Homo sapiens: one gene and its partners. The protein of the gene in region 1 interacts with the protein of each later gene in a biochemical or structural test. Each region holds a gene or a part of one and is shown in the gene's direction. Other genes may lie near its edges.

The links.
Region 2: of the proteins of FAM20C (region 1) and ALB, one has a biochemical effect on the other in vitro, tested with the Homo sapiens proteins (one large-scale study listed by IntAct).
Region 3: of the proteins of FAM20C (region 1) and SPP2, one has a biochemical effect on the other in vitro, tested with the Homo sapiens proteins (one large-scale study listed by IntAct).
Region 4: of the proteins of FAM20C (region 1) and APOL1, one has a biochemical effect on the other in vitro, tested with the Homo sapiens proteins (one large-scale study listed by IntAct).
Region 5: of the proteins of FAM20C (region 1) and CSN2, one has a biochemical effect on the other in vitro, tested with the Homo sapiens proteins (one large-scale study listed by IntAct).
Region 6: of the proteins of FAM20C (region 1) and SPARCL1, one has a biochemical effect on the other in vitro, tested with the Homo sapiens proteins (one large-scale study listed by IntAct).
Region 7: of the proteins of FAM20C (region 1) and VCAN, one has a biochemical effect on the other in vitro, tested with the Homo sapiens proteins (one large-scale study listed by IntAct).

The regions. Positions count from the first base shown.
Region 1 is NC_000007.14:258,147-261,603, forward strand, and holds the end of FAM20C (extracellular serine/threonine protein kinase FAM20C precursor), read left to right. Parts: intron 1-499; coding exon 500-559; intron 560-1,584; coding exon 1,585-1,834; 3' UTR 1,835-2,626; downstream 2,627-3,457. UniProt on the Homo sapiens protein: Golgi serine/threonine protein kinase that phosphorylates secretory pathway proteins within Ser-x-Glu/pSer motifs and plays a key role in biomineralization of bones and teeth.
Region 2 is NC_000004.12:73,402,475-73,407,525, forward strand, and holds the start of ALB (albumin preproprotein), read left to right. Parts: upstream 1-1,812; 5' UTR 1,813-1,853; coding exon 1,854-1,932; intron 1,933-2,641; coding exon 2,642-2,699; intron 2,700-4,154; coding exon 4,155-4,287; intron 4,288-5,051. UniProt on the Homo sapiens protein: Binds water, Ca(2+), Na(+), K(+), fatty acids, hormones, bilirubin and drugs. Its main function is the regulation of the colloidal osmotic pressure of blood. Major zinc transporter in plasma, typically binds about 80% of all plasma zinc.
Region 3 is NC_000002.12:234,063,685-234,067,939, forward strand, and holds part of SPP2 (secreted phosphoprotein 24 precursor), read left to right. Parts: intron 1-2,848; coding exon 2,849-2,903; intron 2,904-3,539; coding exon 3,540-3,590; intron 3,591-4,255. UniProt on the Homo sapiens protein: Could coordinate an aspect of bone turnover.
Region 4 is NC_000022.11:36,265,425-36,268,626, forward strand, and holds the end of APOL1 (apolipoprotein L1 isoform a precursor), read left to right. Parts: coding exon 1-609; 3' UTR 610-2,101; downstream 2,102-3,202. UniProt on the Homo sapiens protein: May play a role in lipid exchange and transport throughout the body. May participate in reverse cholesterol transport from peripheral cells to the liver.
Region 5 is NC_000004.12:69,958,999-69,963,253, reverse strand, and holds part of CSN2 (beta-casein isoform 1 precursor), read left to right. Parts: intron 1-2,246; 5' UTR 2,247-2,258; coding exon 2,259-2,309; intron 2,310-3,174; coding exon 3,175-3,201; intron 3,202-4,184; coding exon 4,185-4,205; intron 4,206-4,255. UniProt on the Homo sapiens protein: Important role in determination of the surface properties of the casein micelles.
Region 6 is NC_000004.12:87,480,544-87,484,798, reverse strand, and holds part of SPARCL1 (SPARC-like protein 1 isoform 1 precursor), read left to right. Parts: intron 1-2,238; coding exon 2,239-2,375; intron 2,376-4,255.
Region 7 is NC_000005.10:83,541,233-83,545,487, forward strand, and holds part of VCAN (versican core protein isoform 1 precursor), read left to right. Parts: coding exon 1-1,036; intron 1,037-4,255. UniProt on the Homo sapiens protein: May play a role in intercellular signaling and in connecting cells with the extracellular matrix. May take part in the regulation of cell motility, growth and differentiation. Binds hyaluronic acid.

The DNA.
Region 1 (3,457 bases):
GTGCTGGAGATAGGCAGGGTGGACCCACTGCCTGAGGTGCTGGAGATAGGCAGGGTGGACCCACTGACTGGGGTGCTGGAGATGGGTGGGGTGGACCCACTGCCTGAGGTGCTGGAGATAGGCAGGGTGGACCCACTGCCTGGGGTGCTGGAGATGGGTGGGATGGACCCACTGCCCGGGGTGCTGGAGATGGGCAGGGTGGACCCACTGCCTGAGGTGCTGGAGATGGGCAGGGTGGACCCACTGCCCGGGATGCTGGAGATGGGTGGGGTGGACCCACTGCCTGGGGTGCTGGAGATGGGTGGGATGGACCCACTGCCTGGGGTGCTGGAGATGGGTGGGATGGACCCACTGCCCGGGGTGCTGGAGATGGGCTGGGTGGACCCACTGCCTGGGGTGTCGGGTACAGGCAGGTGGACCCATGGCCCAGCTCCCAGCCCAGCAGCCTGTTAGGAACCTTGTACAGGGGCCCTTGACAATTCTGCTTTTCTTCTGGAAGGTTTGGGAAGTATTCGCACGACGAGCTCTCCATCCTGGTGCCGCTACAGCAGTGCTGCAGGTACAGCCCCTGCCGGAGCCGGCTCCAGCTCCACCCTCCTCCCTACTGCGCAGGAGACAGAGGAGGCCACAGCCTTCCCCACCCCACCCCGGCCATCACATGGGAGAGAAAAGGCCCCGAATTCAACCACAGCCCTGAATTCAACCCACACCCTCACTCGGCGGCCTGGAGGCGCAGACCTCACCCGCCCACCACCCCAGGCCCATCCAGCTCGAGCCCCCTCGGGCCTCCACTCTGTGTCCGTCCTGCCACCCCAGTTACAGAGAGAGCTCGAGGCCAGGGCAGACGCCAGCTGAGACACAGGGACCCTGCTCCCGCACGCAGCTGCCGGTCTCTGCCACTGCCACCTTCTGCGGGGGTTCAGACCCCCTTTCCCCCGTTTCATGGCTGGGGACGCAGGCTTGCAGGGCAAACGCTTTGTACTTCTCTAAGGAGGCATCACAGCGCCCGTGTTGTGCGGATGTGCTGAGCTGGGGTCGGTCTCCTGGGTGAGTGGGCCGCCCTCCTCACCTCCCCATCCTCCTGGGTGAGCGGGCCGCCCTCCTCACCTCCCCATCCTCCTGCCGGGCCCCTCTGGGAAATACACCGGCCACCACATCCTGCAAGGGCACCCTCATCCCTTGTGCAGGTGAGAGGCGGCAGACCACGCCGAAGCAGGTCACACAGCCCGGAGGCTGATGAGGTGTTGGATCGCAGGCCCCTCTCTCGCGGTCTCTCTCGTCTCTGCCGTCTCTATCTGTGTCTGTCTCTGTCTCTCTCTCTGTCTCGGTCTGCCTGTTTCTCTTTATCTGTGTCTCTTTCTGTCTGTCTGTCTCTGTCTGTCTGCCTTTCTCTCTCCCTCTCTTTCTCTCTGTGTCTCTCTTTCTCTGTGTATGTCTCTGTCTTTTTCTCTCTGTCTCTGTCCCCCTCTTTCTCTCTCTGTCTCTCCCCCCACTCTCTCGATCTCCCTCTCACTTTCTCTCGCTTTCCCGTGGGCAGGCATCTCCCCTGTCCCGTGCCAGGCCTGATGCCCCTCTCCTCCCCAGGATCCGGAAGTCCACCTACCTGCGTCTGCAGCTCCTGGCCAAGGAGGAGTACAAGCTGAGCCTGCTGATGGCCGAGTCTCTGCGGGGGGACCAGGTGGCACCCGTGCTGTACCAGCCGCACCTGGAGGCCCTGGACCGGCGGCTCCGCGTCGTGCTAAAGGCCGTCCGGGACTGCGTGGAGAGGAACGGGCTCCACAGCGTGGTGGATGACGACCTGGACACTGAGCACAGAGCCGCCTCGGCGAGGTAGTGTCCGCCGGCCGCTGCGCTGCCCGGGACGGAGACAGAGGCGCCGGACCTCCCAGCAAGCGCATGCGCCCGTCGTGAATTCAGTGAATTCAGAGGCAGGACGGGATCATCCGGAGTCGGGAGCTGCTGCCACAGGAGGCGAGGCTCCCCAGGTCTCATAGGACACATTTTGTCAGTGTTTGACCAGAAAAGCTTGGGAAGGAAGCGCTGTCTGTGCTCACGGACAGAGGCGGCCGGCGCCGGAGGCATTCCATCCTTTCTGTAGGGAAAGGAGCCTTTATTTACTATTTTGTATTTATATTTGATGAATAAGTATATAAACAGAGACGTGTACACAGATGCCAATCACCTACCAAACCAAACACGAGGACCGCCCTCCCTGGTTCTGGGGGCCCCTCAAGGCCAAGCTCACCCCTCAAGTGCTCTCACACTCGGGACCTAATTCAAGTAAAAACCCTTTCTCCTTCCTGGGGCCTCGGCTCCTGGAGGGCTGGAGGGTCTCGTCTGAGGACGGGAGGAGGCTCTCGCTGGACGTCTGGCCTGTGCGCTGGTGGACGGATGCCTACGTGGTTTTGGAGGACCCGATGACCAGGCGTCCTGCGAGTCCGCCCGCTGGCCTGCAGCACCCACCTCGGACTTGGCTGTGGACGGTTGGTGCAAGTGCATCCTGCAGGGCTGGCTGTGCGCAGCTGTGGGCTGACCTTTGCAGAGTTTTGTGGAATAGTTTGCAATGTCATAAAAGTGCAATAAAGGTACAGCAGATGTGTGTCGGCCTCACGGGGCGGGTCCCTCACACCCTGGTGTGTGGCTGCCTGTCCACCCCCTCTCCAAAGAAAAACCAGTCCTGGAACCAGGCATGGCCAGGAGTCGGCATTCAAGGTGGCCTGGACCCGAGGCCTGCTGGGGTCGGAGGGGGCTGCCTGCCAAGCCCTGGTGCAAACAGGCCAGGTGGGGCCCCACCTCCAAGGCAGGGCGGTCCGTCCTGGGTTGCTCTCAGAGGCTGGGGCCGCGACCCAAAGCTGCGGCGGCCCCGAGGGCAGCCCCTGTCTGTAGCCCTGGCATGGGCAGCTTCCAGTGTTCCAGCAGGACTGGGCAGCCATGCGTGGGGCAGCTGCCCCGGGGCTGTGGTGAGTGAGGGGCACCGTGAAGGGTGCCAGCCCCTTCCCACTGCTGGCCTCGGGGCTGCAGAGATGGGGCTGGGCTCCCAGGCCAGCATCTCCCCTGCTGGCACCATGTGAGGGGCAGAGGCAGGAGCCAGCATGCTGGCTACCACCTGCCCAGCGTCACACGGCCCAGGAGCCCTAAGAAATCAGCTGTGGGGCCGGTCACTGTGGCCCCCTCTTCTAAGAGCCTCTGCATCCACTCACCTGTCCGTTCCACAAAGTCCCTGACACCCATTTGAGCTGTGCCAGGCTGGGTGCAGCGGGGCCTGAGAGACTCAGCTCTGTCCTCATCACCGCCGCCTTGCAGAGCAGCGGGAGACGCACAGTAAATGCACAGATGGGTCACAAACAGGGCCCTGCACATGGCAAGGAAGTCGGCAAGGGCAGAGGATGCGCCAGGCAGACATTGCGTGTGGGGCAGCCAGGGAGGTGCTGTGGCCCCTTCATCCACTGGCTGGAGC
Region 2 (5,051 bases), on another chromosome or scaffold:
ATGTGAGAGTGACAAAGGCCTGAATTTGTCAATTAGTAACAATTGTATTCAACAGTAAGGATTTTATGTTTGGGTAGGCCTTTCCCAGGGACTTCTACAAGGAAAAAGCTAGAGTTGGTTACTGACTTCTAATAAATAATGCCTACAATTTCTAGGAAGTTAAAAGTTGACATAATTTATCCAAGAAAGAATTATTTTCTTAACTTAGAATAGTTTCTTTTTTCTTTTCAGATGTAGGTTTTTCTGGCTTTAGAAAAAATGCTTGTTTTTCTTCAATGGAAAATAGGCACACTTGTTTTATGTCTGTTCATCTGTAGTCAGAAAGACAAGTCTGGTATTTCCTTTCAGGACTCCCTTGAGTCATTAAAAAAAATCTTCCTATCTATCTATGTATCTATCATCCATCTAGCTTTGATTTTTTCCTCTTCTGTGCTTTATTAGTTAATTAGTACCCATTTCTGAAGAAGAAATAACATAAGATTATAGAAAATAATTTCTTTCATTGTAAGACTGAATAGAAAAAATTTTCTTTCATTATAAGACTGAGTAGAAAAAATAATACTTTGTTAGTCTCTGTGCCTCTATGTGCCATGAGGAAATTTGACTACTGGTTTTGACTGACTGAGTTATTTAATTAAGTAAAATAACTGGCTTAGTACTAATTATTGTTCTGTAGTATCAGAGAAAGTTGTTCTTCCTACTGGTTGAGCTCAGTAGTTCTTCATATTCTGAGCAAAAGGGCAGAGGTAGGATAGCTTTTCTGAGGTAGAGATAAGAACCTTGGGTAGGGAAGGAAGATTTATGAAATATTTAAAAAATTATTCTTCCTTCGCTTTGTTTTTAGACATAATGTTAAATTTATTTTGAAATTTAAAGCAACATAAAAGAACATGTGATTTTTCTACTTATTGAAAGAGAGAAAGGAAAAAAATATGAAACAGGGATGGAAAGAATCCTATGCCTGGTGAAGGTCAAGGGTTCTCATAACCTACAGAGAATTTGGGGTCAGCCTGTCCTATTGTATATTATGGCAAAGATAATCATCATCTCATTTGGGTCCATTTTCCTCTCCATCTCTGCTTAACTGAAGATCCCATGAGATATACTCACACTGAATCTAAATAGCCTATCTCAGGGCTTGAATCACATGTGGGCCACAGCAGGAATGGGAACATGGAATTTCTAAGTCCTATCTTACTTGTTATTGTTGCTATGTCTTTTTCTTAGTTTGCATCTGAGGCAACATCAGCTTTTTCAGACAGAATGGCTTTGGAATAGTAAAAAAGACACAGAAGCCCTAAAATATGTATGTATGTATATGTGTGTGTGCATGCGTGAGTACTTGTGTGTAAATTTTTCATTATCTATAGGTAAAAGCACACTTGGAATTAGCAATAGATGCAATTTGGGACTTAACTCTTTCAGTATGTCTTATTTCTAAGCAAAGTATTTAGTTTGGTTAGTAATTACTAAACACTGAGAACTAAATTGCAAACACCAAGAACTAAAATGTTCAAGTGGGAAATTACAGTTAAATACCATGGTAATGAATAAAAGGTACAAATCGTTTAAACTCTTATGTAAAATTTGATAAGATGTTTTACACAACTTTAATACATTGACAAGGTCTTGTGGAGAAAACAGTTCCAGATGGTAAATATACACAAGGGATTTAGTCAAACAATTTTTTGGCAAGAATATTATGAATTTTGTAATCGGTTGGCAGCCAATGAAATACAAAGATGAGTCTAGTTAATAATCTACAATTATTGGTTAAAGAAGTATATTAGTGCTAATTTCCCTCCGTTTGTCCTAGCTTTTCTCTTCTGTCAACCCCACACGCCTTTGGCACAATGAAGTGGGTAACCTTTATTTCCCTTCTTTTTCTCTTTAGCTCGGCTTATTCCAGGGGTGTGTTTCGTCGAGATGCACGTAAGAAATCCATTTTTCTATTGTTCAACTTTTATTCTATTTTCCCAGTAAAATAAAGTTTTAGTAAACTCTGCATCTTTAAAGAATTATTTTGGCATTTATTTCTAAAATGGCATAGTATTTTGTATTTGTGAAGTCTTACAAGGTTATCTTATTAATAAAATTCAAACATCCTAGGTAAAAAAAAAAAAAGGTCAGAATTGTTTAGTGACTGTAATTTTCTTTTGCGCACTAAGGAAAGTGCAAAGTAACTTAGAGTGACTGAAACTTCACAGAATAGGGTTGAAGATTGAATTCATAACTATCCCAAAGACCTATCCATTGCACTATGCTTTATTTAAAAACCACAAAACCTGTGCTGTTGATCTCATAAATAGAACTTGTATTTATATTTATTTTCATTTTAGTCTGTCTTCTTGGTTGCTGTTGATAGACACTAAAAGAGTATTAGATATTATCTAAGTTTGAATATAAGGCTATAAATATTTAATAATTTTTAAAATAGTATTCTTGGTAATTGAATTATTCTTCTGTTTAAAGGCAGAAGAAATAATTGAACATCATCCTGAGTTTTTCTGTAGGAATCAGAGCCCAATATTTTGAAACAAATGCATAATCTAAGTCAAATGGAAAGAAATATAAAAAGTAACATTATTACTTCTTGTTTTCTTCAGTATTTAACAATCCTTTTTTTTCTTCCCTTGCCCAGACAAGAGTGAGGTTGCTCATCGGTTTAAAGATTTGGGAGAAGAAAATTTCAAAGCCTTGTAAGTTAAAATATTGATGAATCAAATTTAATGTTTCTAATAGTGTTGTTTATTATTCTAAAGTGCTTATATTTCCTTGTCATCAGGGTTCAGATTCTAAAACAGTGCTGCCTCGTAGAGTTTTCTGCGTTGAGGAAGATATTCTGTATCTGGGCTATCCAATAAGGTAGTCACTGGTCACATGGCTATTGAGTACTTCAAATATGACAAGTGCAACTGAGAAACAAAAACTTAAATTGTATTTAATTGTAGTTAATTTGAATGTATATAGTCACATGTGGCTAATGGCTACTGTATTGGACAGTACAGCTCTGGAACTTGCTTGGTGGAAAGGACTTTAATATAGGTTTCCTTTGGTGGCTTACCCACTAAATCTTCTTTACATAGCAAGCATTCCTGTGCTTAGTTGGGAATATTTAATTTTTTTTTTTTTTTAAGACAGGGTCTCGCTCTGTCGCCCAGGCTGGAGTGCAGTGGCGCAATCTCGGCTCACTGCAAACTCCGCCTCCCGGGTTCACGCCATTCTCCTGCCTCAGCCTCCCGAGTAGCTGGGACTACAGGCGCCCGCCATCACGCCCGGCTAATCTTTTGTATTTTTAGTAGAGATGGGGTTTCACCGTGTGCCAGGATGGTCTCAATCTCCTGACATCGTGATCTGCCCACCTCGGCCTCCCAAAGTGCTGGGATTACAGGAGTGAGCCACCGCGCCCGGCCTATTTAAATGTTTTTTAATCTAGTAAAAAATGAGAAAATTGTTTTTTTAAAAGTCTACCTAATCCTACAGGCTAATTAAAGACGTGTGTGGGGATCAGGTGCGGTGGTTCACACCTGTAATCCCAGCACTTTGGAAGGCTGATGCAGGAGGATTGCTTGAGCCCAGGAGTTCAAGACCAGCCTGGGCAAGTCTCTTTAAAAAAAACAAAACAAACAAACAAAAAAATTAGGCATGGTGGCACATGCCTGTAGTCCTAGCTACTTAGGAGGCTGACGTAGGAGGATCGTTTGGACCTGAGAGGTCAAGGCTACAGTGAGCCATGATTGTGCCACTGCACTCCAGCCTGGGTGACAGAGTGAGACTCTGTCTCAAAAAAGAAAAAGGAAATCTGTGGGGTTTGTTTTAGTTTTAAGTAATTCTAAGGACTTTAAAAATGCCTAGTCTTGACAATTAGATCTATTTGGCATACAATTTGCTTGCTTAATCTATGTGTGTGCATAGATCTACTGACACACGCATACATATAAACATTAGGGAACTACCATTCTCTTTGCGTAGGAAGCCACATATGCCTATCTAGGCCTCAGATCATACCTGATATGAATAGGCTTTCTGGATAATGGTGAAGAAGATGTATAAAAGATAGAACCTATACCCATACATGATTTGTTCTCTAGCGTAGCAACCTGTTACATATTAAAGTTTTATTATACTACATTTTTCTACATCCTTTGTTTCAGGGTGTTGATTGCCTTTGCTCAGTATCTTCAGCAGTGTCCATTTGAAGATCATGTAAAATTAGTGAATGAAGTAACTGAATTTGCAAAAACATGTGTTGCTGATGAGTCAGCTGAAAATTGTGACAAATCACTTGTAAGTACATTCTAATTGTGGAGATTCTTTCTTCTGTTTGAAGTAATCCCAAGCATTTCAAAGGAATTTTTTTTAAGTTTTCTCAATTATTATTAAGTGTCCTGATTTGTAAGAAACACTAAAAAGTTGCTCATAGACTGATAAGCCATTGTTTCTTTTGTGATAGAGATGCTTTAGCTATGTCCACAGTTTTAAAATCATTTCTTTATTGAGACCAAACACAACAGTCATGGTGTATTTAAATGGCAATTTGTCATTTATAAACACCTCTTTTTAAAATTTGAGGTTTGGTTTCTTTTTGTAGAGGCTAATAGGGATATGATAGCATGTATTTATTTATTTATTTATCTTATTTTATTATAGTAAGAACCCTTAACATGAGATCTACCCTGTTATATTTTTAAGTGTACAATCCATTATTGTTAACTACGGGTACACTGTTGTATAGCTTACTCATCTTGCTGTATTAAAACTTTGTGCCCATTGATTAGTAACCCCTCGTTTCGTCCTCCCCCAGCCACTGGCAACCAGCATTATACTCTTTGATTCTATGAGTTTGACTACTTTAGCTACCTTATATAAGTGGTATTATGTACTGTTTATCTTTTTATGACTGACTTATTTCCCTTAGCATAGTGCATTCAAAGTCCAACCATGTTGTTGCCTATTGCAGAATTTCCTTCTTTTCAAGGCTGAATAATATTCCAGTGCATGTGTGTACCACATTTTCTTTATCCATTAATTTGTTGATTGATAGACATTTA
Region 3 (4,255 bases), on another chromosome or scaffold:
GCCCCATCAGGAGTACGATGCTGAAATGGTACAATGTATTACAGTTGTAGGTTGGAGCTCTCTTTCTCTTTCTTCAGTTTCTAATGAGTGAGCTTGACTTTAGACAAATCCTTCTGATTTGGAGCGGATAGGATGAAGTCAGCTAGGGTTTCCGACACGAGACCCAAAATAAGAGAGAGAAACTGAAGAAGAATGATGACAGGAATTCTGAGCTTACGGGAGGGGTGACGGGCATTTAATTTATTTACTGCCTTTCATTTCAAAAGATAGATATTCAACTAGAAGTAGTCTAAGCCAAAAAGAGGTAATTCCCTGGATCACATTCCCAGAAAGGAAGGAGAGAAGTTGGCTTCAGGGACAACTCGACTTAGAGTCCTTCAGTCCTGTATGTGCCACATTCTTCTCCTTCCCCTTCTCTCCTGGCCTCCCCTCCCCTCTGCCCCTCCCTCTTCCTTCTCCCCCTCATTCCCTTTTCTCTCTCTCTCTTCCTCCCTTTCCTCCTCCCTCTCCCTCTCCTTCTCCTTCCTTCTCTGAGCCTCCTCCATCTTCTCCTCCTTCCTCTGTCTCTCTCTCTCTCTCTGTCACTGTGCCTTCTGCACTCCACGTCCACCCTTGCTGCAGAGAGGCTTTCCCCTTGCAGCAGGAAGTAAAGCCTCAAGCTACTCCAGACTTATGTCCTCTGTACTTAGGAGGGAAAAGAGGCATTTCTCTCTGCTGCCAGTTAGAGAAACCTCTTGGTATTCCCTCTATTGGCCTGGCTTAGGTGTCCCCTCTTTTTGTTCTTTTATACATATAACTTTATTATTAATTTATTTTAAATTTTATATATTTACTTGTGTACAATGTGATGTTTTGATACCCCCCTTTAAAAATACATTTTGGTGGAGATATAATTTACATACCATAGAATTCACCCTTTTAATATGTACAGTTCAGTGGTTTCTAGCATATTCACAACTGCCACCACCATTTAAATCCAGAACACTTTTATCACGCGGGAGAGAGACCCCAGTAACAGTTGTTCTCTATTCCTCATTCCTCCTAACACTTGGCAACCACTAATCTACTTTGTGTGTCTATGGATTTGTCCATTCTGATCATTTCATACAAATGGAATCGTACAGCCTGTATTCTTTTGTGACTGACTTGTTTCACTTAGCATAATGTTCTGGAGGTTTATCCATGTTGTAGCATGCATCAATGCTTCATTCCTTTGTATTGTTCCGTTTTACAGAGCCACATTTGATTGATCCATTCATTCATTGATCGACATTTTGCTTATTTCTCCCTTTTTGGCTATCATAGATAATGAGGCTAGAAGCATTCATGTGCAAGTTTTTGTGTACACATGTATTTAATTCTCTTGGAAACAGAATTCCTGGATCATATAGTAACTCTATGTTTAATGACCGTATAGTGACTTTATGTTTAACTTTTTGAGGAACTGCCACATTATTTCCATAGCAGCTGTACCATTTTACATTCCCACCAGTAATGTATGAGGATTTCAGTTTCTATACATTTTTGTCAGTTCTTGTTGGTGCCTGTCTTTTTTATTTTAGCCATTCTAGTGAGTGTGACGTGGTATCTCATTGTAGTTTTTTTTGTTGTTGTTGACAGAGTCTCACTCTGTCACTCAGTCTGGAGTGCGGTGGCACAATCTCGGCTCACTATAACCTCTGTCTCCTGGGTTCAAGCAATTGTAGTGCCTCAGCCTCCCAAGAAGCTGGGACTACACGTGCGTGCCACCATGCATGGCTAATTTTTGTATTTTTAGTAGAGACGGGGTTTTGCCATGTTGGCCTGCCTGGTCTCCAACTCCTGGCCTCAGCTAGTCTGCCTGCCTTGCCTCCCAAAGTGCTGGGATTACAGGCATGAACCACTGTGCCTAGCTCTCATTGTGGTTTTAATTTACATTTTTCTAACGACTAATGATTGGCCATTATACATCTTCTTTGAAGAAATGTCTATTCAAATCCTTGCCTATGATTTAATTGCACTATTTGTCTTTTTATTTAGTTGTTTTGAAATATTTTCTCCCCCTCTATGGGTTGTCTTTTACTTTCTTGATGGTGCCCTTTGAAGAGCAAAATTAAATTTTGATGAACTCCAGTTTATCTATTTTTTGTTTTGTTGTTTCTGTAGTCTTACATTAGGTCTATGATCCATGTTGACTTGATTTTTGCATATGTTGTGAGGAAGGGGTTTGACTTCATTCTTTTGCATGTGCATATCTGGTAGTATCAGCACTATCTGTTGAAAAGAATGTTCTTTCTCTCTTAAATTGTCTTGGTATGTGTCCCTTCCCAGTCCAACTACTGTGATGGAGGCCAAGAAATTACCTGACTGTTCAGGACAGGGAGGACAGCCTACCAAGACTCTTGGTAGAAAGACTGCGAGCCAAGCAACCACTTTACTTTGTGATGATTGCATGGACTTTTAGTGGTTTCATGAAAACTTCTTGTGGACACCTTTTCCTACTGAACATATTACAGTGACTTTATAGAGAGAAACCTCTAAAATTCGATCTAAACTTAGTCTGTGTGCAAGTCTGTGTAACAGGGTTTTGCTTTTCTGGAAGCCGGCAATGTTTGGGAGTACATTCTCAGTCTAGGGGAAAGATCTGTGGGTAATTTAAACTTCACGTAGTTTGCTCTTCCCCATGTGCTTTTTTAGACTTATATGTTTGATATATATAAAGTTATTTAATATAACGTATTGCCTATTTCATTAAAAATGGATTATATAACATATATCAGAGTCTTCCAGATGACATTTACATTTTTCAGTGTCTTTCCTTTTTCTTTCTTTCATGTGCTGACACATCCTGATGCCTGAATTTCTTTAGATGATTTTTGGGGACATGTTGGGATCTCATAAATGGAGAAACAATTATCTATTTGGTAAGTTAAGATCTGTTCTTTTTAACTTTTTTTCTTAAAATAACTCCATATTGCAACTCTTTGTTAGTGAGTCATTTAAAACTAGAAATACATATGTATGTAATCTTGCAACAATTACAGCCATAGAAAATTAACATTTTGTTTTGCTTTTGCTTATTTTTTATCACTAGGTAATAATGATACAACTATTCACTTAGATATTCCTTTGTATTCACAACAGAGCTTTTCCATACATAATTCCATTTGATGGCCCCAACATCTCTGCCAAGTAAGCGGAGCCAGTGTTGGTTTTCCCCTTAAGAATGTCTAGCTGGGAGGATCAGGAGTAAACAGTCTGAATTCTATCGTCTTTCAGCCATACAACTAGATCTGATCATCTCTTTGAATGTCTTAGTTCAGGGAGGAAGGGCTCTCCTTCTTTCTTTTCTTGTGTGGCTTTTAATACAAAGTGGGTTGGGTTAGTGTTCTATGATTTAGGAGGCATTTTTCCTATTAGTGCTGACGGCAATAAAACTCAATGGTGATCTCTCACTGCTTCTTTGCTTAAGAAGCATATTTGTGGCATTAACAGTAAAGTCATAGAACATTCTGGAACAGTGAGAGGAGTCTTGTCTTATGATTATTACTGTGTTACAGGTCTCATTTCAGACGAGTCCATAAGTGAACAATTTTATGATCGGTCACTTGGTAAGTGATTTCTTTCCTGCTGTGCCACCAGACCCTTTTCTGATCAATCTGGACTCCTGAGAAATCCTATTTCATAGCTGTTTCCTGTTTCATAGGAGTTAAATCTCTGAAATACAAAATATTTTAAGTAAAAAAGGAAAAGAATAGTAATGTATAAACTTGCTTTGCAAATCATTAAAAAGGTAGCCTTGAGGCACTAACTGACTTAAAAGTTACCAAGAGGCCGGGCGCGGTGGCTCACGCCTGTAATCCCAGCACTTTGGGAGGCCGAGGCGGGCGGATCACGAAGTCAGGAGATCGAGACCATCCTGGCTAACATGGTGAAACCCCGTCTCTACTAAAAATACAACAAATTAGCCGGGCGTAGTGGTGGGCGCCTGTAGTCCCAGCTACTCGGGAGGCTAAGGCAGGAGAATGGCGTGAACCCGGGAGGCGGAGCTTGCAGTGAGCCGAGATTGCGCCACTGCACTCCAACCTGGGCGACAGAGGCCAGACTCCGTCTCAAAAAAAAAAAAAAAAAAAAAAAAAAAAAAAGTTACCAAGAATCAAAATATCAAATCTGGCTCAGGAAATAAGCATTCACCATTTTTTTTTTCTGACACTCTCTGGAGCATTTAAAAAGTAGCATGAACTCTAATATAATCTTGTTTTTTTAAACTAAAAAA
Region 4 (3,202 bases), on another chromosome or scaffold:
GCACCCTTCACAGAGGGAGGCAGCCTTGTACTCTTGGAACCTGGGATGGAGTTGGGAATCACAGCCGCTTTGACCGGGATTACCAGCAGTACCATGGACTACGGAAAGAAGTGGTGGACACAAGCCCAAGCCCACGACCTGGTCATCAAAAGCCTTGACAAATTGAAGGAGGTGAGGGAGTTTTTGGGTGAGAACATATCCAACTTTCTTTCCTTAGCTGGCAATACTTACCAACTCACACGAGGCATTGGGAAGGACATCCGTGCCCTCAGACGAGCCAGAGCCAATCTTCAGTCAGTACCGCATGCCTCAGCCTCACGCCCCCGGGTCACTGAGCCAATCTCAGCTGAAAGCGGTGAACAGGTGGAGAGGGTTAATGAACCCAGCATCCTGGAAATGAGCAGAGGAGTCAAGCTCACGGATGTGGCCCCTGTAAGCTTCTTTCTTGTGCTGGATGTAGTCTACCTCGTGTACGAATCAAAGCACTTACATGAGGGGGCAAAGTCAGAGACAGCTGAGGAGCTGAAGAAGGTGGCTCAGGAGCTGGAGGAGAAGCTAAACATTCTCAACAATAATTATAAGATTCTGCAGGCGGACCAAGAACTGTGACCACAGGGCAGGGCAGCCACCAGGAGAGATATGCCTGGCAGGGGCCAGGACAAAATGCAAACTTTTTTTTTTTTCTGAGACAGAGTCTTGCTCTGTCGCCAAGTTGGAGTGCAATGGTGCGATCTCAGCTCACTGCAAGCTCTGCCTCCCGTGTTCAAGCGATTCTCCTGCCTTGGCCTCCCAAGTAGCTGGGACTACAGGCGCCTACCACCATGCCCAGCTAATTTTTGTATTTTTAATAGAGATGGGGTTTCACCATGTTGGCCAGGATGGTCTCGATCTCCTGACCTCTTGATCTGCCCACCTTGGCCTCCCAAAGTGCTGGGATTACAGGCGTGAGCCATCGCTTTTGACCCAAATGCAAACATTTTATTAGGGGGATAAAGAGGGTGAGGTAAAGTTTATGGAACTGAGTGTTAGGGACTTTGGCATTTCCATAGCTGAGCACAGCAGGGGAGGGGTTAATGCAGATGGCAGTGCAGCAAGGAGAAGGCAGGAACATTGGAGCCTGCAATAAGGGAAAAATGGGAACTGGAGAGTGTGGGGAATGGGAAGAAGCAGTTTACTTTAGACTAAAGAATATATTGGGGGGCCGGGTGTAGTGGCTCATGCCTGTAATCCGAGCACTTTGGGAGGCCAAGGCGGGCGGATCACGAGGTCAGGAGATCGAGACCATCCTGGCTAACACAGTGAAACCCCGTCTCTACTAAAAATACAAAAAATTAGCCGGGCATGGTGGCGGGCGCCTGTAGTTCCAGCTAACTGGGCGGCTGAGGCAGGAGAATGGCGTGAACCTGGGAGGTGGAGCTTGCAGTGAGCCGAGATATCGCCACTGCACTCCAGCCTGGGTGACAGAGCGAGACTCCATCTCAAAAAAAAAAAAAAAAAGAATATATTGACGGAAGAATAGAGAGGAGGCTTGAAGGAACCAGCAATGAGAAGGCCAGGAAAAGAAAGAGCTGAAAATGGAGAAAGCCCAAGAGTTAGAACAGTTGGATACAGGAGAAGAAACAGCGGCTCCACTACAGACCCAGCCCCAGGTTCAATGTCCTCCGAAGAATGAAGTCTTTCCCTGGTGATGGTCCCCTGCCCTGTCTTTCCAGCATCCACTCTCCCTTGTCCTCCTGGGGGCATATCTCAGTCAGGCAGCGGCTTCCTGATGATGGTCATTGGGGTGGTTGTCATGTGATGGGTCCCCTCCAGGTTACTAAAGGGTGCATGTCCCCTGCTTGAACACTGAAGGGCAGGTGGTGGGCCATGGCCATGGTCCCCAGCTGAGGAGCAGGTGTCCCTGAGAACCCAAACTTCCCAGAGAGTATGTGAGAACCAACCAATGAAAACAGTCCCATCGCTCTTACCCGGTAAGTAAACAGTCAGAAAATTAGCATGAAAGCAGTTTAGCATTGGGAGGAAGCTCAGATCTCTAGAGCTGTCTTGTCGCCGCCCAGGATTGACCTGTGTGTAAGTCCCAATAAACTCACCTACTCATCAAGCTGGACTTGTTCGAGTCATTCTTTGGTCTCTCAGCTCTTTCCAAGCTTTGGGGGCCATCAGTCTCAAGTTTTTCTCGTAATGGTGGTGATGGTGGTTGTGATGGCAGCAGAGTGGTGGGGGCCTTGGCAAGTGGTCGGTGCTCTTCCAGACCAGGGGACACCGATGGACCGATGAAGTTCCAGGGGAACTTGAAGTGCTGTGTTGGAAAGAGGTTAATTTGGGAAGAAAGGAAAAATGAAAGGAGATGCCAGGAACAGGTCAAGGAACCTTGAGGTGTGTCCAGGAGTTCAACCCCGCTTGTGGTCACGAGACCTCGCCTCTCTGAGCCTCAGTTTCCTCATCAGCTGTAGAAGGGTACCTGGACAAGGTGATGTCTCAGGTCCACCCAGCTCTCCCCATCTTGTGTCCTGGAGACTTGGGTCCAATCAGCACTGACTGATGGCTGTGCCTTTGTGGTGCCGATGGAGGCTCCCCTGGGCTCTGGGTGCCTGACTTCCCTTCCTCATGATCCTTCTTCCAGGGTCTCGGGAAACGAGGCTTCCATGGCCCCTCCTGCTTGCTCACTGGACTCTCACTTTCCCAGCTGGTCATTTCCCTGAGACCTCAAAACCCCACCAACCCCACTGGGGCACCCACAGAAAGCTTGTACATGTCTGGCTCTGGCTGAGCACAGGTGTGGTTTCCATCTGCGAGTCAGAGCCCGGGATTGACATGGGACGCTCGAGGCTGACTAGTGTCAGAGGGGCCTGTGTGCAGATTGGGAGAAGATTATCGAGTAATAGAGGGGCAAAGAGGGACATCCAGACAGCAAACACCCCCATCCAGTCTGTCCTCACGTTTTGCCCAGACTCCTGCAAGAACTTCCAGAATGGTCTTCCATGTGCAACTGCCCGTCCCTGCCCATGTCCTGGATCATTCTCCACACTGCGCCAGGTTGGGCTTTAACAAGATCATGTTTTGGGTTTTTGGGGGTTTTTTGTTTGTTTGTTTGGTCTCACTCTGTTGTGAGGCTGGCGTCCCGTGGCATGAGCATGGCTCACTGCATCTTGGACCTCCCGGCCTCAAACTACCCTTCCACCTTGACCCCCTGAGTAGCTGG
Region 5 (4,255 bases), on another chromosome or scaffold:
AATCCTTTGGGTATATACCCAGTAATGGGATGGCTAGGTCAAATGGTATTCCTAGCTCTAGATCCCTGAGGAATCGCCACACTGACTTCCACAATGGTTGAACTAGTTTACAGTCCCACCAACAGTGTAAAAGTGTTCCTATTTCTCCACATCCTCTCCAGCACCTGTTGTTTCCTGACTTTTTAATGATCGCCATTCTAACTGGTGTGAGATGGTATCTCATTGTGGTTTTGATTTGCATTTCTCTGATGGCCAGTGATGATGAGCATTTTTTCATGTGATTTTTGGCTGTATAAATGTCTTCTTTTGAGAAGTGTTTGTTCATATCCTTTGCCCACTTTTTGATGGGGTTGTTTGTTTTTTTCTTGTAAATTTGTTGGAGTTCATTGTAGATTCTGGATATTAGCCCTTTGTCAGATGAGTAGATTGCAAAAATTTTCTCTCATTCTGCAGGTTGCCTGTTCACTCTGATGGTAGTTTCTTTTGCTGTGCAGAAGTTCTTTAGTTTAATTAGATCCCATTTGTCAATTTTGGCTTTTGTTGCCATTGCTTTTGGTCTTTTACACATGAAGTCCTTGCCCATGCCTATGTCCTGAATGGTATTGCCTAGGTTTTCTTCTAGGGTTTTTATGGTTTTAGGTCTGACATGTAAGTCTTTAATCCACCTTGAATTAATTTTTGTATAAGGTGTAAGGAAGGGACCCGGTTTCAGCTTTCTACATATGGCTAGCCAGTTTTCCCAGCACCATTTATTAAATAGGGAATCCTTTCCCCATTGCTTGTTTTTGTCAGCTTTGTCAAAGATCAGATAGTTGTAGACATGCGGCATTATTTCTGAGGGCTCTTTCCTGTTCCATTGGTCTTGGTATCAGTTTTGGTACCAAGTACCATGCTGTTTTGGTTACTGTAGCCTTGTAGTATAGTTTGAAGTCAGGTAGCATGATGCCTCCAGCTTTGTTCTTTTGGCTTAGGATTTACTTGGCAATGTGGCCTCTTTTTTGGTTCCATATGAACTTTAAAGTAGTTTTTTTCAATTCTGTGAAGAAAGTCATTGGTAGCTTAATGGGGATGGCATTGAATCTATAAATTACCTTGGGCAGTATGGCCATTTTCATGATATTGATTCTTCCTACCCATGAGCATGGAATGTTCTTCCATTTGTTTGTATCCTCTTTTATTTCCTTGAGCAGTGGTTTGTAGTTCTCCTTGGAGAGGTCCTTCTCATCCCTTGTAAGTTGGATTCCTAGGGATTTTATTCTCTTTGAAGCAATTTTGAATGGGAGTTCACTCATGATTTGGCTCTCTGTTTGTCTGTTATTGGTGTATATGAATGCTTGTGATTTTTGCACATTGATTTTGTATCCTGAGACTTTGCTGAAGTTGCTTATCAGCTTAAGGAGACTTTGGGCTGAGACGATGGGGTTTTCTAGATACACAGTCATGTCATCTGCAAACAGGGACAATTTGACTTCCTCTTTTCCTAATTGAATGACCTTTATTTCCTTCTCCTGCCTAATTGCCCTGGCCAGAACTTCCAACACTATGTTGAATAGGAGTGGTGAGAGAGGGCATCCCTGTCTTGTGCCAATTTTTAACGGGAATGCTTCCAGTTTTTGTCCATTCAGTATGATATTGGCAGTGGGTTTGTCATAGATAGCTCTTATTATTTTGAGATATGTCCCATCAATACCTAAATTATTGAGAGTTTTTAGCATGAAGTGTTGTTGAATTTTGTCAAAGGCCTTTTCTGCATCTATTGAGATAATCATGTGGTTTTTGTCTTTGGTTTTGTTTATATGCTGGATTACATTTATTGATTTTCGTATGTTGAACCAGCCTTGCATCCCAGGGATGAAGCCCACTTGATCATGGTGGATAAGCTTTTTGATGTGTTGCATAAATCTTTCCATACATATTTATAACTTCTTTATGCCTTTTGAAAAATTCAATACTGTAAATGGGACTTTTTTAAAAGTGGGGATAGAGTTGTTAGCTGAAAAATCTGAATAGCTGGCAATGAAGTTTGGAATTTGAAAAATGAGAATCGCAAGCCAGAATGGATTTTGACCTCCTTCATGTGATATAACTTCTATTTAGTATTTATTCTATTTATTTTCTAAATGCAGATATTTTTGTTATATATTATCTCTCTTTTTTTTTTGTTTTATAAAAAGTAACCTTACCTACATAAGAAAGTATATCCAATTGACCAATCTTCCACCATTCCATTTTTTCTACATTCACAGGACTTAGTAGCCATGAAGGTCCTCATCCTCGCCTGCCTGGTGGCTCTTGCTCTTGCAAGGGAGGTATGTGCACAAGAAAAAATTCCTAAACAATCAATAAATAGTGGACTATATGCTTATTTGTAGAGAATAACATCACCAACATTTTTTACTGTATAAATAATGAAGAATTTCATGAGAATTCTCTTGGCTTCTATCAAAATCATTTATATTTACCCACTGTCTCAACAGTTTCCTATAGTGCCCCAAATGCTTCCTGCACCAATGTGCTGCTAGTCACTAAAGAAAAAGCAAACAAATCAATAAGTAATAAAAAATCATAAAAATGGCAACGAAATATAATATTGCATAAATACAACTCCAAAGATTCTCAAGCTAGATAAATATATCTTATTCCAGTGATAAAATGTATATATACCTTACAGCCTAGGGCACTGGGTCAAATCCTGTGTCTGTCTGTACAAAGACATCCATGGGATGAAGTACAGAGACAATCATAATCATGATCATAAATATATTAATAATAATATAATAAAAATATTTAATACAAATTAAAGTGACTCTTCTTTTACCCATAAAAAACTCTGTCTTTAATAAATGTAAGATAAAAATATATTAATAGATTACTAAATATAAAAGACATTAAAGTAATTACCTTTTAAACCTCAAAAGTCATATAACATTTTTTATTTCTCAAATTTGTGAAAGAGATAGCTCTGCATAAGTGATGTAAAAATTAAGTAGGATGCATGTTTAACAATGAGTTAGCTATAGAAGTTGAATTTTTAAACATCTTTTCAGAAGGAACAATCCAATGCATCCTCTGAGGTGAGATTATTTTTTTAGAGAAAATTTATGAACCATAAAATAGTAAAATTCTCTAATGATCTAGAAGATTTAGCTGGTTGTCAATTTTTTTTTCCCACAGACCATAGAAAGCCTTTCAAGCAGTGAGGTAAGTTAACATTCTACCCAATTTTAGAACAGTAAAATCCTGTGCTATTTTTCTATGGTGTTACATCATGGCAGTTAAGCTAATGCAGCTATGTTAATGACATATAAGTTCTAGTACATATTTCTTTTATGTGTGTTTAAGGACAATAAGTATCTGGATAATACAACATTCTAGAACTTTGTAAATTGGCTTGCTACTTGAAATTGTGTTATTTTGCTTCTTTTTTTTTTAATGAACCATATTGTCCTGTTTTCTGCCTTGAACTCTCTTTACTCTGAACTTATTCACCTTAAGCATATACTGACGGCCTTCTATGGGTCAGACATTGACTAGGAGCTGTGGTACAAACTGAAAAGTTAGAGATGCCAGTGATAGTTAAGAGCTTGCTAAGTAGTAGGTAGGCAGACGTGCAAAAAGGACACATTTTATAATTACAATAGCCACTTTAGTAAATAAGCGAGATTTAGTGTAGTCCTAAATTTACCTGAGAGAGTCAGGTAGATATTTATTCTTACACCACTCTTCTTGGGTGTGTGATCACTTGATAAGTAAATGGTACATCAATAGATTCTGTCTCTTCAGAAAGGTTATATGATCCTTAAGGGAAGTGTTTAACTCTTATGATTCATTTGAAGTGATCATAATGTATCAATTGTTATTAGAATATATTTTCAATGAGTATTTCTTTTTTTAAAAATCAGATGGGGTTTTAGATATCATTTGTTGTCAGGGAATGAGCATGGTGGTAGAGAGAAATTAGCATCTATTAATTGCTTTTTTTTGTACCATGTCCTTCTTGACTGCATTCATCTGACTTTCTTTTACATAACAAGCTCATATAGAACAGTTTAATACATAAGTTTAATGATTATACAAAGTTATTAATGATATTATCAAAGAATTAATGCCTTTATTTCCTGATTTATATTGCAAAGTAAGAATTGTTAAAACTAAACCTAATTTTATTTTATATTTTTCTGTAGGAATCTATTACAGAATACAAGGTAAATTTTCACATTTAAAATGTACACATTTTCAAAATTTCCTCCTTTTA
Region 6 (4,255 bases), on another chromosome or scaffold:
ATACAACTTACAATGGATGTGAAGGACCTCTTCAAGGAGAACTACAAACCATTGCTGAAGGAAATAAGAGAGGACACAAACAAATGCTCATGGATAGGAAGAATCAATATCGTGAAAATGGTTGTACTGCCCAAAGTAATTTATAGATTCAATCCTATCCCCATCAAGCTACCACTGACTTTCTTCACAGAATTAGAAAAAAACTACTTTAAAGTTGGGAACCAAAAAAGAGCCCATATATCCAAGACAATCCTAAGCAAAAACAACAAAGCTGGAGGCATCACGCTAACTAACTTCAAACTATACTACAAGGCTACAGTAACTAAAACAGCATTGTACTGGTATCAAAACAGATATATAGACCAATGGAACAGAGCAGATGGCTCAGAAATAATGCCACACATATACAGCCATCTGATATTTGACAAACCTGACAAAAATAAGCAATGGGGAAAGGATTCCTTATTTAATAAATGGTGCTGGGAAAACTGGCTAGCCATATGCAGAAAACTGAAACTGGATCCCTTCCTTACACTTCATACAAAAATTAACTCAAGATGGATTAAAGACTTAAACATAAGACCTAAAACCATAAAAACCCTAGAAGAAAACTTAGGCAATACCATTCAGGACATAGGCATGGGCAAAGGCTTCATGACTAAAACACCAAAAGCAATGGCAACAAAAGCCAAAATTGATTAATGGGATCTAATTAAACTAAAGAGCTTCTGCACAGCAAAAGAAACTATCATCAGAGTAAACAGGCAACCTACAGAATGGGAGAAAATTTTTGCAATCTGTCAATCTAACTAAGGGCTTATACCCAGAATCTACAAGGAACAGATACAAATTTACAAGAAAAAAACAACCCCATCAAAAAGTGGGTGAAGGATATGAACAGACACTTCTCAAAAAGAAGACATTTATGCAGCCAAAAAACATATGAAAAAAAGCTCATAATCACTCGTCATTAGAGAAATGCAAATCAAAACCACAATGAGATACCATCTCTCACCAGTTAGAATGGCGATCATTAAAAAGTCAGGAAACAACAGATACTGGAGAGGATGTGAAGAAATAGGAACGCTTTCATATTGTTGGTGGGAGTAAATTAGTTCAATCATTGTGGAAGACAGTGTGGCAATTCCTCAAGGATCTAGAACTACAAATACCATTTGATACAGCAATCCCATTACTGGGTATATACCCAAAGGGTTACAAATCATTCTACTATAAAGATGCATTCACACATATGTTTATTACAGCACTGTTCACAATAGTAAAGACTTGGAACCAACCAAAATGCCCATCAGTGATAGACTGGATAAAGAAAATATGACACATATACACCATGGAATACTATGCAGCCATAAAAAAGGATAAGTTCATGTCCTTTGCAGAGACATGGATGAAGCTGGAAACCATCATTCTCAGCAAACTAACACAGGAACAGAAAACCAAACACTGCATGTTCTCACTCATAAGTGGGAGTTGAACAGTGAAAACACATGGACACAGGGAGGGGAACATCATATACCAGGGCCTGTCAGGGGCTGGGGGACTAGGAGAGGGATAGCATTAGGAGAAATACCTAATGTAGATGATGGGTTGATGGGTGCAGCAAACCACTATGGCATGTGTATACCTATGTAACAAACCTGCACATTCTGCACATGTATCTCAGAACTTAAAGTATAATTAAAAAAAAAAAAAAACGGCAGTGATCCTGAGCTCTGGGGAGACTGCAATGAGCAGAGCCCTCCTGCCAACTTGTATTGGACTTGTAGCAGGATTGCAAAATTGACTTCTGTTTCTTTAAGCCACTGAGATTTAGCATTATTTCTTACTGTAGTATCAGCTAATAGCTACCTTTTTCTCTATTCAATAGCACTTGTGCCCTCCACCTACAAATTTCAACTCTGATTCTACAGCAGTGATTCTGGGGCCTAGCTGCACATCCAAATAGATCTTGGAGCTTTAAAAACATCCTGATGCCCAGACTTCACGCCAGACCAATCACATCAGAATTTACTTGATTGGAAGCTGGCATTTGGTATGTTTTTTAAAACCCCAGGCAATTTTGTTGTGCTGCTGCCAGGGCTGAGGACCACTGTCATAATAATGGGGACCTGAGAAAGCTCTGTCAGTTGCCAGAAGTCGTTAAGCTTCCTATTATGAGGACTTGCCATAGGACACAAATAAGCCCAAAGATTACAGTACATTTTCTGCTTGTAACAGCTATTCCTACTTGTACGGACTTTGAAGTGATTCAGTTTCCTCTACGGATGAGAGACTGGCTCAAGAATATCCTCATGCAGCTTTATGAAGCCAACTCTGAACACGCTGGTTATCTAAATGAGAAGCAGAGAAATAAAGTAAGTTATCCACAGGTTAGCTTCTTCAATGTCTGTCTACAGGGCATGAGGAAGAAAGACGTGGTGGGGGGGCTACCTACCTCTGCATACTGGCAAAAGCCCACTATGCTTCCCCATGCCCGGTTAGCCCATGTGGCTTAACAGAATAATAGATGTCACCATTCACGCCACAAGGTTTCAGACACCACCAAACCGCCCCATTCTTCCCAATGGTCAGTGGCCTGAATTAGGGCTCTTCAATTCCTACCTAGAGCAAGCTCTGGTTGAGCAAAGTTAATATAAATTTAGCATTGATCTAGTCAGTCCAAACATCTTATTTAAATCTAAGCATTTGTTTTGTTCTCATAGGCCAGACATAGATGTATGATATAAAGTAAATCCATTACTCAAAATATCAGTAATATATTAAGATTAAAAAGCACAGAACATTGATTCCAAAAGCTTCCAGAGAAAATTCATTCACCAGATAGTTATTGAGTGTATCCTGGGTGCCAGAAATTGACCTAAATACTGGAGATACAGCAACGAAAAGAAAATCTCTGCCTTCATGAGTTTACATTCTGGGTGAAGAGACAGACTCTAAACAAATAAGTATATATGTGTGTGTGTATGTAATGTTTGTATATGCATATATTTGTACATACATATATATGCATATATGCAATTATATATAGTAAAATGAGCATTTATGTAAATATAACCAAATCAGCAAATATATGTATAAGTATGTCAGTTGGGATTAAACATGGTGTGAAGACAAATAAAACAAGAAGGAGGGTGTGCATTAACTGTGTCAGATGCTGTTTATAGGTTATGAGTTGAAGACTGAGAATTGGCCAGGGATTTAGCATGTCAAAGTCATAGCTGACCTTGATAGGAACTGTTCCTGGGGTGGGAGCATGTTTCAGGAGGGAAGCTCCAGTGGACAGAGTTCAACAGAGACTAGGAGGAATGGATGCAGCAAGTATAGACAATCCTTTCAAGGAGTTTTGCTATGAAGAGATAAAGAGAAATGGGGTGGCAGCTGGAGTGGAAAGTGAGTACAAGAGTCCCACCTAGCAGTGGGAGATGGTAGAGGATGTTTGCACGCTTCTGGAAATAACCCAGTCAAGAAGGAAATGTTAGTGGGGAGCAGAGAATGCGCACAACTGCCAGAGGGCGTTCTTCGATACATGTCCCACCCAGAGGAGAGGGATTGGACTTAGGTTAGGAGCACAGGAAGGTCGCAGGGAGCAAAGTTGTGGTTCTGGGAGCAGGTGGAGGTCCTGTTTGCTTCCAATTACTCAGTGAAATAAGAGGCAACATCACAAGCTGAGAGTTTCACAGGCACTGCTCAAGAATAATTTCTAGCCCCCGTCTTGAATACCTTGTCACAGAGAGCCTTGAGGGTATTAGCTATGAAACAGGGAAATTTCAATGGGGCTGGCCAAGCAATAACACACCAGGGTGAAAGCAAGACTGAGTGGGCACTGGATGGATGACCTAGAAGACTAAGAGTGGACTCTGTCATCGGGGGAAGGAGCAGCACTTTTCACTAACTAATCACCTTAGTCAATTCAGCCCTTTTCATTAAAACCTCATAGTTTAAAAAAAAAAAAAAAAAGCAGCGAACATTACTTGGTTAAAAGAAAGAGGCAAAACATACTTAAAATATTTAAAAGTTTAAAAAAGAATTTAAATTTCTTCTAAAAACCAGAGGTTTCTTACATCAGGTGCTATTCTGTGTAGACATGAGAAAGGCCTGTAGTATTGATTGGAAGGAATTTCATTTAGTTGCACATGATGTCCTGAGCTTGTTTTCCCCTATCGTGTTACTGTCACTCTTCAAGTAAAGTTTATAGCAAGTGACAAGTCCATTACATTTGTCTGATTCTCTGACA
Region 7 (4,255 bases), on another chromosome or scaffold:
TTTGAAAGGACTCAGGAGGAGTATGAAGACAAAAAACATGCTGGTCCTTCTTTTCAGCCAGAATTCTCTTCAGGAGCTGAGGAGGCATTAGTAGACCATACTCCCTATCTAAGTATTGCTACTACCCACCTTATGGATCAGAGTGTAACAGAGGTGCCTGATGTGATGGAAGGATCCAATCCCCCATATTACACTGATACAACATTAGCAGTTTCAACATTTGCGAAGTTGTCTTCTCAGACACCATCATCTCCCCTCACTATCTACTCAGGCAGTGAAGCCTCTGGACACACAGAGATCCCCCAGCCCAGTGCTCTGCCAGGAATAGACGTCGGCTCATCTGTAATGTCCCCACAGGATTCTTTTAAGGAAATTCATGTAAATATTGAAGCGACTTTCAAACCATCAAGTGAGGAATACCTTCACATAACTGAGCCTCCCTCTTTATCTCCTGACACAAAATTAGAACCTTCAGAAGATGATGGTAAACCTGAGTTATTAGAAGAAATGGAAGCTTCTCCCACAGAACTTATTGCTGTGGAAGGAACTGAGATTCTCCAAGATTTCCAAAACAAAACCGATGGTCAAGTTTCTGGAGAAGCAATCAAGATGTTTCCCACCATTAAAACACCTGAGGCTGGAACTGTTATTACAACTGCCGATGAAATTGAATTAGAAGGTGCTACACAGTGGCCACACTCTACTTCTGCTTCTGCCACCTATGGGGTCGAGGCAGGTGTGGTGCCTTGGCTAAGTCCACAGACTTCTGAGAGGCCCACGCTTTCTTCTTCTCCAGAAATAAACCCTGAAACTCAAGCAGCTTTAATCAGAGGGCAGGATTCCACGATAGCAGCATCAGAACAGCAAGTGGCAGCGAGAATTCTTGATTCCAATGATCAGGCAACAGTAAACCCTGTGGAATTTAATACTGAGGTTGCAACACCACCATTTTCCCTTCTGGAGACTTCTAATGAAACAGATTTCCTGATTGGCATTAATGAAGAGTCAGTGGAAGGCACGGCAATCTATTTACCAGGTAAGATCACAACATTGATAAATCTGTTTCCAAACCTGGAAACAGTCCCTTGGTGCTAACGTTTATATGTATGTAATTTTTATTGTGATGTTAAATCAATGGAGAGTTTCATATTATTCACATAACAGCAGGCCAGGCCACAGTATTGAGTTCATAATGAGATGAAATGACAGTAAGTATAGATTAGTTTTGGACTTTAGAAGTAGACTTTGTATTTTTCTGGGTTTTAGAAATAATATACAATTACAACATGGAAAAGATGAAATTATTAATGTTATAAAAATTCAATTTGTTTTTACTCACAACTAGAGTATTGCTTTGTCATATGTCTCATAGTTATACATGTTAGGTTTAAAAGTAGAAAAAAAGTCCTATTTTTAAAAACCCTCCCATTGATGGATGCTATTGCTGTAGTATCAAAATCTGTCAGGCCTTTAACATTTGGGAGTAGTACGTAGCTCTAATAATTATTTCAGAGTTTGTGCAGTATCAATATCAGCTCATACTTATATGCAATGTCCTTGTTTAAGACAGTCTACATAATGCATCAAACACAGTGCCTACCAGTAGTGAGTAGTCATTTATTATATAAACATACTGCCTGTTGAGAGAAGTTTTCTGTGTATTTACTGAATGTATGGAAAGCATGAATTTGATACTGATTCATATAAGCCATCTCTTCTGATTGCCACGAAAAGGCTATAAAAGCCCTGTGTGAAAGGGTAAGAGGTGAAGGTTCAGAGAGGTTCAGCAACTTGCCCAAGGTGGCACAGCCACATTGTGGTAAAAGTAGGATTTGAACCCAGCTTAGCTCCACTCTAAAGTCCATAGTCTTTTCACTGCTCTTTGCTGGTTTCAGTATAGTATAAAAATAAACAATTGATATTGAATAATATATGAACCAGGAATCTTGGAATATTTACTTTGTAGAATTTATTTTCCTCTTAATCTAGCCTGAGAATGTTAAGAAATCAGCTCTAATGGTGTTTTCCCATAATGTTATTATTTAAATTAACAATGTCAGTGGAATCCACAAATAGACATCACCACCTAGCTGCTACCTGCAAAAAGAGGAAGAAAAATCAGTACTTTAATGTCTGTCTTGGTTGAGAATATATGTTTTATTTTAATATGTTTTATGCCATGACTATCGTTAAAATTATTCTTCTGATCATATCAATATTACCTTTTGTGCCACCAATGCTTTATTTTGATGTGCTTCAGAAAGAGTAAAATAGAAAGTACAATTTTTAATAAATGGCTTGAAATATTTTGAGGAAAATTGATCAAAGGTAGTTGACATTGGGTTTTTTGTTATCACTGTGTGTTAAATCTGTAAATGATAATCTAGTAATTTGGCTAATATTTATTGTTTTTTAATTTAGTTTAATATACTTCAGTTTGTTAAAAATATGATGTAAAAATAACTGGTAATAACTAGGTACATATAGAGTTAAGTTTGATGAATGAGAAATATGTACCAATTTTCCAGTTTACAATATTTACCAAGATTTATAGTTTGCGTCTTCATTGCAAAACAAATGGTCACTTTAGCTTAATTCAGTAAACAGCAGCTCATATGGGATTACCTGGTCTATCTGTTGCAGATTCAACTTTCAGAGGTTAATACGAACTGTTTAGGGGAGAATAACATTCATAAAAACTGAAGTTTCCTGTTAATTGGAACGACTTCCAGTTCACAGGAAGACTCACTCACTCAGTCCTTGTTTCATGGTCTCAGCATGGTGTCTAGTGTCAGTGGTAGGAATAGTAATAGTACTTCTTCACATTTGTGTGGCACATCACAGTCTGATAAAGCACTTTCACCTAGTGTCATTTGGATTCAGCACAGAGGGCAGCATGTGGCTATGGCGTGTGTTAACTGCAGCCTTGTCATCCTGGCAGCGAGCGTACTTGTACTTTAAAATTCAGAAAGCTAAAATTGTTAGGGAGATTTCAAATAGTTTTGGAACTATAGGAAAAAGTGTCTTAGAAAACTCGGGGGAGTTTTTGGAGAAGTTGATGTACTCATCTGAATTAACCTAATTTTAACGTGAATCCCAAACATGGGAATGTGTACCTATCCAGGTTTATAGTCATTCAGAATTTACTTAACACTCAGAAAGTTTGAGTTTGACTTTCTGGTGTGGGGAAGTCTCAGTTATCTTTTATAGCAGTACCTTGTTTATCCTGATATTCTTTAAGCTAATGTTTCATAAGAAGTTAGACATCTTTCTTCTTTCATGTGTAATTATTTCAGGGTTTCAGGACTTAAGATTCTTGAAAGTATGGGTGTATTCCATAGATAATCTATTTTATTTCAATTATTTTGTAAAACTTTCAACTCTCATTTGGATCTTTGAAGATTTAGAAATGTAAGCAAGTCTGAAACAATATACAAAGAATAAGTATAAACTCAATGAAAATACACTTATCCAAGCAATATTGCAATATAAAATATATGCTTCAAGTGGTGTAAAAGTGTTTGCACTTAGAAAATATATTTAAACTGTTTGTCCTCATAAATTTATGTCTTCGGCCTTCATATTTATCTCCCAGGAGTGTCGGTTTTATTTGTATTTTAATAAGAAAATTATAATAAAAACTTGGGGTTTCATTTTAGGTGAGGTTTTTGTATTTGGGTTTGTTTTTCTACAGTAGAGTTTAATCCATGTGTTGCTTTTCTTCAAGTATAGTTTAAAGGAGTACATTTGGAACGTGTTTTTGGAAAAAGCATGTTAATGTAGCAGAAGAGACTTCAGTGCACACTTTCGAAGAAAAACAGTTTCTGAGCATTAAGTGGTAAAAGGCAATAATAATTCAAATGATGATAACAAGCCAACCTGCTAAAAAGAATGCATGTTCTGTGTATCCAGCCATTTCACATGAACTAACCCCATTTAAAAGAATACATTTTCCATTCACTGTGCACATATGTGTAATCATTTTTGACTAAAATCAATTGCCATTATCATGCCAACTAAATCTGCAGTAGAATATATTAGTTGCCAGATACAGTACAAAAAATATCATTTAAGAGTAATCGTGATTGAATCCCAGAAATGAATAGATGCAATTTGTAACAATTAGTTATAATGCCAAGAAACACTCCAGAGAGTAAAGTTAATGTTAATTTTTATATGTAGTAACTCTAAATTGCTATGGTAAAGCCTATAATATGGTAGCAATATGGGGCGTTTTATGCTAAAATACACGCAA